Homo sapiens: one gene and its partner. The protein of the gene in region 1 purifies or fractionates together with the protein of each later gene. This does not show direct contact. Each region holds a gene or a part of one and is shown in the gene's direction. Other genes may lie near its edges.

The links. The genes of interacting proteins can lie anywhere in the genome.
Region 2: the proteins of ZNRF2 (region 1) and ANKRD44 purify together in Homo sapiens (affinity purification with mass spectrometry; one large-scale study listed by BioGRID and IntAct). This does not show direct contact.

The regions. Positions count from the first base shown.
Region 1 is NC_000007.14:30,350,475-30,354,125, forward strand, and holds part of ZNRF2 (E3 ubiquitin-protein ligase ZNRF2), read left to right. Parts: intron 1-286; exon of another isoform or gene 287-363; intron 364-3,651. UniProt on the Homo sapiens protein: E3 ubiquitin-protein ligase that plays a role in the establishment and maintenance of neuronal transmission and plasticity. Ubiquitinates the Na(+)/K(+) ATPase alpha-1 subunit/ATP1A1 and thereby influences its endocytosis and/or degradation.
Region 2 is NC_000002.12:197,118,633-197,122,283, reverse strand, and holds part of ANKRD44 (serine/threonine-protein phosphatase 6 regulatory ankyrin repeat subunit B), read left to right. Parts: intron 1-739; coding exon 740-952; intron 953-3,651. UniProt on the Homo sapiens protein: Putative regulatory subunit of protein phosphatase 6 (PP6) that may be involved in the recognition of phosphoprotein substrates.

The DNA.
Region 1 (3,651 bases):
AATAAACGTTATTCCCATATTTTTACTGATATATTTATCTTACAGTGAAAATGGCAACTTCCCTTTGTTAAATATCATTTCTAAGCCTATTTATATTTGAGTACAGTAATAGCTCATGGATCTGTAATTGAAAGAATTAGTTAATGTTACGTTCTTTTATACGTATAAGAGATAACTTAATATCTGAAAGTATTTATTATTAAAACTTGTGAGCCCCAACTTTTTGTTCTTTGAGTAATTGCTTTTCACTAATGTTGTAAATTTTTTTAATTCTTGATTTTTCTAGGGATTATTTCACATTTCAGCTGCTTTTGTTTTCTACTGCTATCATTGAGGGTTCAAGAACAAAAAATAAGTCTTCAGGTAAAATGCCTGATCCATAATAGCGCTTGGCGTTGTATTTTGCTGAAAAGATCATATACCTGTTTGGATGCTTGATCTGAAAATAAAGTTGTGATGATTATGAAATTTTCGCATGAAGTTTCCTTGGCTGCCTAACAAATTCAGTCTTATTTGTTGGTTTGGTTTTTTGTTTTTTTTTTTAAAGAATTTTGGCTGTTTGCTTTTTTTTTTTTCCATGTCGTCTTGATCTGCAATAACTATATGGATATGTGCTTGGACCTGCTAAGTATTTTAATTTTGCATATTTGGCTGCTTGAATTTTAAGTAATTTCTTTGGACAATGCAAATTTTAAGAGCTTGAGAAGCTGTAAGTGAAATATCAAGTAACAGAAGTTTGTAACTAGTTTATAAATGTATATTCATTACCTATTATATATTTTAAGGTTTCATATTTTACCAAAATTAAATTAAAAATTCAGTTTCTCAGTTGCACAGGCCACATTTCAAGTGCTGTTTTCAGGCCATATGTGGCTAGTGGTTACCATTGTGGACAGCACAGATAAAAGATGTTTTTTCATCACCGTCCATAGTTCTATTGGACAGAGCTGTTTTAAATTGTGTAAGCAGTTAATTGTAAGGTCGTTTCAGTTATTTTATCCAGAAGATAAAGCGTGTGACCAGTCTTGAGAGTACTTCCTCTAAATATGTAGCTTGAGTATTTAAAACTTAGTTGTTTAAAACAGTCCAGTTGCTTTGGTATTTACGTTGCTTTAAAGTGAAATTGTTTCTTGTAGCAGAATTCATGAAGTAGGAAAAATGCCAAGGACTTAGTCTAAATTTGAATCCTGACCTCAGGACTTAGTAGTTTAGTAACTTCTGGTAAGTTACTTTACTTCTTTGAGCCTCAGTTTCCTTATGTGTAAAATGAAGGTAACAATAGTTACTTCATAGGATTAACATGTGACTTAAATATGTCAAAAGCACATTAAAAAGTACACGTTTTTAATCCTTTTAAAATATAGAATGAAGCCAAAACATAAATTAATTAGACAGTGTCATATGCTTGGAGTTGTTCCCAGCCTGGCAGTTATAATAGGCGCCTAAGTTCCTGGTCTTCATGGAGTTATTTGATGACATTGTTCAGGTTTGAAACAAGTGGAATACCAAGATGGAGAGAAAAAGAAATAGGAAGATGACTGACTTTGTTTTTGGAGAGGTGCATGAAGTACTATCTGATAATAACTAACATTTTGTATAGTGTTTTTTTATAACTTATAAAGTTTTTTCACACAATTCTTTAAAATTTCATCTCTAATATTTTGAGTACTTTTAACAGAAGAATAAAAGGAAACTTGAGGTTGACGAACATTTTTGTTCGTGAGAATGGAAATTCATATTAAGTTTTCAACTTTAAATCTTAGGCTCTTTCTACTTAAACAAGCTATTCTTTGATAGCAGTCGCATTTGTGAGGCAGGCATATATTTCAGAATCTCCAGGGGTGGGACTCAGGTACATATAATTTTTTGGTATATGTTGAAAATGCACCCATTGAAGTGATTCTAGTGCCCACTTCTGGTTAAAAATCGTAATCATTGCTCTTTTCCAGTCTTTTAACTTTTCTTTTCCTGTAATCAGTACATCTAAATTAATGCATAGATTACATGAATAAGACAAGGCATTAAACTGATAAGCAATGCGCTCATTTAACTTTTACTACTCTAGATGTTGAGGTATGAGCAATAACACTTTTTAAAAAGCAACATGTTTAGTTCCCTGTTGACAATCTCTTGTGTCTCCATTGATCATAGCTTGTGGAGGAGGAATCCAGACTAGCCAACTATGGTAGTTAAATCTGTGAGTGTTCCCTTCTCTGCTTCTTTAATGAGTTTTGGCTAGTTAGTAGTCTACCCCAAGATATTCCAGTTCTGAAGTGTTGACTCCTTAATCCCTGTGGGTGTTATCTTCATAAATGTTTTCAACTGATCTTTAGATTTTTAATCTTTTCCCAACTGTCTTGAAGATGCTTTAGTATCCTGGGTTTAGTGGTATTTCCAGGTCCTGTTTTTAAGTATGAATGTATCACATTACTAACAAGTCTTTCACAATTGTGAAATGTAGTTACCTATGTGAAGGCAAAAGCTCAAAACTTTCCTCTGAATGAAAGTGTCATTATAGGGGTGAGAGAGGGGACTACTCTAGCAAACCCCCAGGTAGGCAAAAATTAATCACATTCCACAGTGAATTTTCAAAACTGAAAATATTTTTAAACATACAAAGACACATTCTAGTGGAAACAAGACTTTAAAATGTGAAAATTAAGCATTTGCTATGTGAAGCTGTAATCATGAGGTTTTGAAGTCAGAGTGAACTATCTTCTAACTCAGAGTTGCTTATCAAAATGCAACTGATCAGTGGCTACAATATGTTAACATTAGCTTTTAATTTTCTGAGCAGAGATTATGTCACTAGAAGCTATTTTTAGTGGATATTAGGCTGTTTCTGCACTGAAATCAGTGTGTTCGGGATGTTTTTGTATACAGGTATACTTTTCTTGAACAGAAAATACAATTCTGAAGTACAGTTCTGATTATTTTTTATTGCTAGGGTTTAAGGGAGCTTATTTTTTAAATGACTTTAACCCAGCATTCTGAATTACACTAAAAAGATTGTTTAAACTTAGTACCTGCAAAGCATCTGAGGGATAAGTCTCGCCCCTGTCAATTTTAAAATAGCATTGTGTTCTTAAAATATGTATCATTCTGTTAATTATAGGCAGGTTGGATTTGTCTTTGTTGTACTATAAATTTTCTTATAAATAGGATAAAATGTAGACCTTTTAAAATATTCTCATCTCAAAGACTTTGAAGAGCTCTGAAAATGAGATGCGTCTAAAATCGATGTTGCATCATAGTTTGGTGGAAGCATTTTTTTTTTACTTGGTGGTATATAAAGCTAATGGTGCATATTATGACCATTGATGTTTTAGGTTTGATAAAAAGTGGTGGTTAACTTTTTGAAGGTGGTTGTGAAACTTACACTCACATAATTCTTTGATAAGAATGGTATACCTTTGTGATGAAAAAATACGTAAGTGGTGAGAATATACCATATTACTTGGAATTATAGACCTTTACCAGGTTTTTTTAGTGTCTCCTTTAGATCCTTTTTCTTTTTGTTCTCACTGCTATCAGTTAGATGCTTCACGTTAAACTTGTTCCCTATCTGAATCTCCTATTGAAAGATACTAGAACAATAAGAGAAAAATGGAGATCAAGAGAATGAGAAAAGGCATGGGGTGCAGGATGGGG
Region 2 (3,651 bases), on another chromosome or scaffold:
GCAGCAATGTCTACTCTTGAGCTGGAAAAGGCAGACTGCTGCCTTCTCTTTCTGCTGGTAGAACAGGAGCAGTGGTGAGGCTGGAACATCCTGTCCCCCAAGAAAGGAAAACCAAGTTGCATCATTATGGAAAACCATAATGAGGAAACCAGGCATCCAGGGCAGGTCTCAGAAAGCAATAGGGAGCCGTGGACGAAACACACCTCCTGACGGCACCACTGCTCTGCTACTAAAATGCAACCTGGTGAGGTGTCGGACTCCAGAGCAAAACAGAGAGTGGATTCTGACCCGCCTTCCATGTTTAGACTCCACAGCCACCTCCCCTGCCATCTCCGCAGCCACTTCCTCTGCCATCCCCCACCATTTCTTGAGGTTTTCTGTGCCCCAATCCTAGAGTGTGGGACTCTTTTCATTCTCCTCTGATTTACTTCTCTTTTGGTGTTTTGAAAGCAGCTTTGCCCTTCACCTTTTATTCCTTTGTTAGCTGAAAAATACCTCTCCCCAGGATGAAACTTCTCTGTCTCCAGTTCATTTTTTGCCACATTGACTTTTTGCTGATCTTTACCATGGGGTGACAAGCATTCCCAAGATGACCACACTGGGGCAAGAGTAAGCTCTGAACAATTATATTGGCGGATGGCTATTTCCTTTCTCTAGCCACAGCCGTTATGCTTTTTGTGGAAAATGGAGTAAACTGGCTCTAATGACTTTAATCACCCTGTGTTGGACTCTTTTGCAGATTGATGAAATCAATGTCTATGGAAATACAGCGCTTCACATCGCCTGCTACAATGGACAGGATGCTGTGGTTAACGAGTTGATTGACTACGGTGCTAACGTGAACCAGCCAAACAATAATGGGTTCACCCCTTTGCATTTTGCTGCTGCCTCCACTCATGGTGCTTTGTGTCTTGAATTGTTAGTAAACAACGGGGCAGATGTTAACATTCAGGTATGACACTCTTAGTCTCTGTGTTGAATGCCTTTGCATTGAGCTTCTGTTTGAGCAAAATCAACTGCTGCAAATTATGCCATGTTTTAGTGAGTTGGAACCTCACAGCCTTGTCCTGGATTTGGAGGCTATAAGAAAAGTTGTCTGGAGGCTGAGGCAGGTAGATCATGAGGTTAGGAGTTCAAGACCAGCCTGACGAAGATGGTGAAACACCATCTCTACTAAAAATGCAAAAATTAGCCAGGCGTGGTGGCGGGTGCCTGCAATCTCAGCTACTCGGGAGGCTGAGGCAGAGAATTGCTTAAACCCGGGAGACAGAGGTTGCAGTGAGCTGAGATTGTGCAACTGCACTCTAACCTGGGCAACAGAGCAAGACTCCGTCTCAAAAACAAAAAAAAAAAAGTTGTGTTATTTTTCTTCAGGAGTGGTGGTATCAGCTGAAAGGTACCAAGGCTCCAGCCGTGTGTTCTTGTTAGCTTAGTGAATGTGTCAGGACAAATACTGGATCTCTAGGATATTGACTTGCCCAGAAGCTAATACTGAGGTGAATGTTGAGCTGATAGGGCAGTGTTGCTAAGAATTCAAAGGAAGGCCTAATAATGATTGTAGGCCTGTTTCCAACTCCAGTGTGGGTTTAGAGCTTCTCAGATACCTTCTTTCTTTTCTTTCTTTTTTTTTTTGAGATGGAGTTTTGCTCTTGTCACCCAGGCTGGAATGCAATGGCGTGATCTCAGCTTACTGCAACCTCTGCCTCCCAGGTTCAAGCGATTCTCCTGCCTCAGCCTCCCCAGTAGCTGGGATTACAGACATGCACCACCATGCCCAGCTAATTTTTTGTATTATTAGTAGAGATGGTGTTTCACCATGTTGGCCAGGCTGGTCTCAAACTCTTGGCCTCAAGTGATCCACCTGCCTCAGCCTCCCAAAGTGCTGGGATTACAGGTGTGAGCCACTGTGCCCAGCCAATACCTTCTTAAAGCAAACCCCAGATAGTGGCTTCAGTGATGTAGCACTGAGCTGGTCATCACAATCATTCCTTTATTCAGCAAATTTACTAAGGACTACCCAGTGCCCTCTGTTTGGTACTGAAAGAGTGCTCTAAGATGAGATTCAGTCTCTGCCTTTAAGGAACTTACAGTGTAGTAGGGAGGTAGCATGCACTCAGGTAATCATGAGCAAGAGAAGATATGATGAGAAGAGTCATAAAGCATTGCAAACTCTAAGAAGCAATTGTTGACTTGTTTTTTGCTTGGGAATAAAAAATGGAGATCGATTTTGAGGGGAGACTTGGAAGATTAATGTAGTTGAGTTGAGGAGGGATAGAGATAATTTGAGAGAGAGTGTTCCAGATAGAACAGCATGAGCAAAGAGGGGTGGGAATTCTGGATAGGAAAACCTCTAGGTAACTTGTCAGCTTGCCATGTGACAGCTAACCAAGGGGAGCTTATCACGCAGCATTCATAATTTGGGCGACATCACTTGAATGCATTTAGATTGTAGCAGAATATCCTTAGCTGTGCTAGGAGACCTTTTATTCAACCCAGGCTTCCCTTCTTCCCAGCACACAGGGATCCTGAAGCAAGGTCCCAGTGTATTCTGTCTCTGGTTTTGAAAAATGATTTCTAAGGTGTAATTTCAAGAATATCACATCAGTCTATTTTAATAACCTTCTCTATTCACTATTAAAATCTTATATTTTTTCACAATTTCTAATAGTGGTGAAAGATGTGACAAATTTTCAGAATAGCAATTGATTGTATCAAATAGAGTATAATTTTATGAACATGCCAAGTGTGGTGGCTCGGCCTGTAATCCCAGCTCCTTGGGAGCCTGAGGTGTAGGATTCCTTGAGCCCAGGAGTTTAAGATCAGCCTGAGCAACCTAGTGAGATCCTGTCTGTAAAAAGCTTTTTTATTTTTAATTGTATGACAGAAAGGAGCCAGAAATGAGCTGAAATGTGATTTGACCAAGGAAGAGGACTCATCTACTGGATGATTTTGAGCCCAAGGAGCTTGGGCCTCTCCAGGCTCTGCAGGCCACGAATCATTCTAGGGGTCATATGATCAGACCTGAGCATTAAAAACAGTAATCCGGTCACAGAACACCAAAGGCAGGAAAAAAAAAGGAAAATAATCATATATATGACTACAAAAAAGTCTTAAACATTTATAAAACAAAACAACAACAATAAAACCTCTAACATGAAATTAAAATAAGAGCAACTTAGGGAAAATTTTCTTCAATATACATGATAAGCAAATAGTTAATATGCTTGATATAAAAAGAGCTCATACAAATCAATAAGAAAAAGTGATCATTACTAGAAAACATGGAGCAAAAGTCAGATCACAAGAGAGAATAAAAAATACATTAAGCCTGTGAAAAACTAGTATTACTGGTAATTAGAAAAATACAAACTAATACAAAAACGTACATTTGTGTTAAAGAACGGCAAATATCAAAATGGCTAATAACACCTAGTATTATCAATGAAAACATTGAAATGCAATAAAGAAATATGATCTCTTTTTTAATGCTAAAATGTTATGGTTATGTGTGTAGATGATGCAAAAACAGAGAAAATTCTCTGGAGTATGTACCAATATGCTAGCAACAATTATCACTGCAGAGAGACAAAATTATGATTTAGGTTTTTCTTTCTTTCTTTCTTTCTTTCTTTCTTTCTTTCTTTCTCTCTC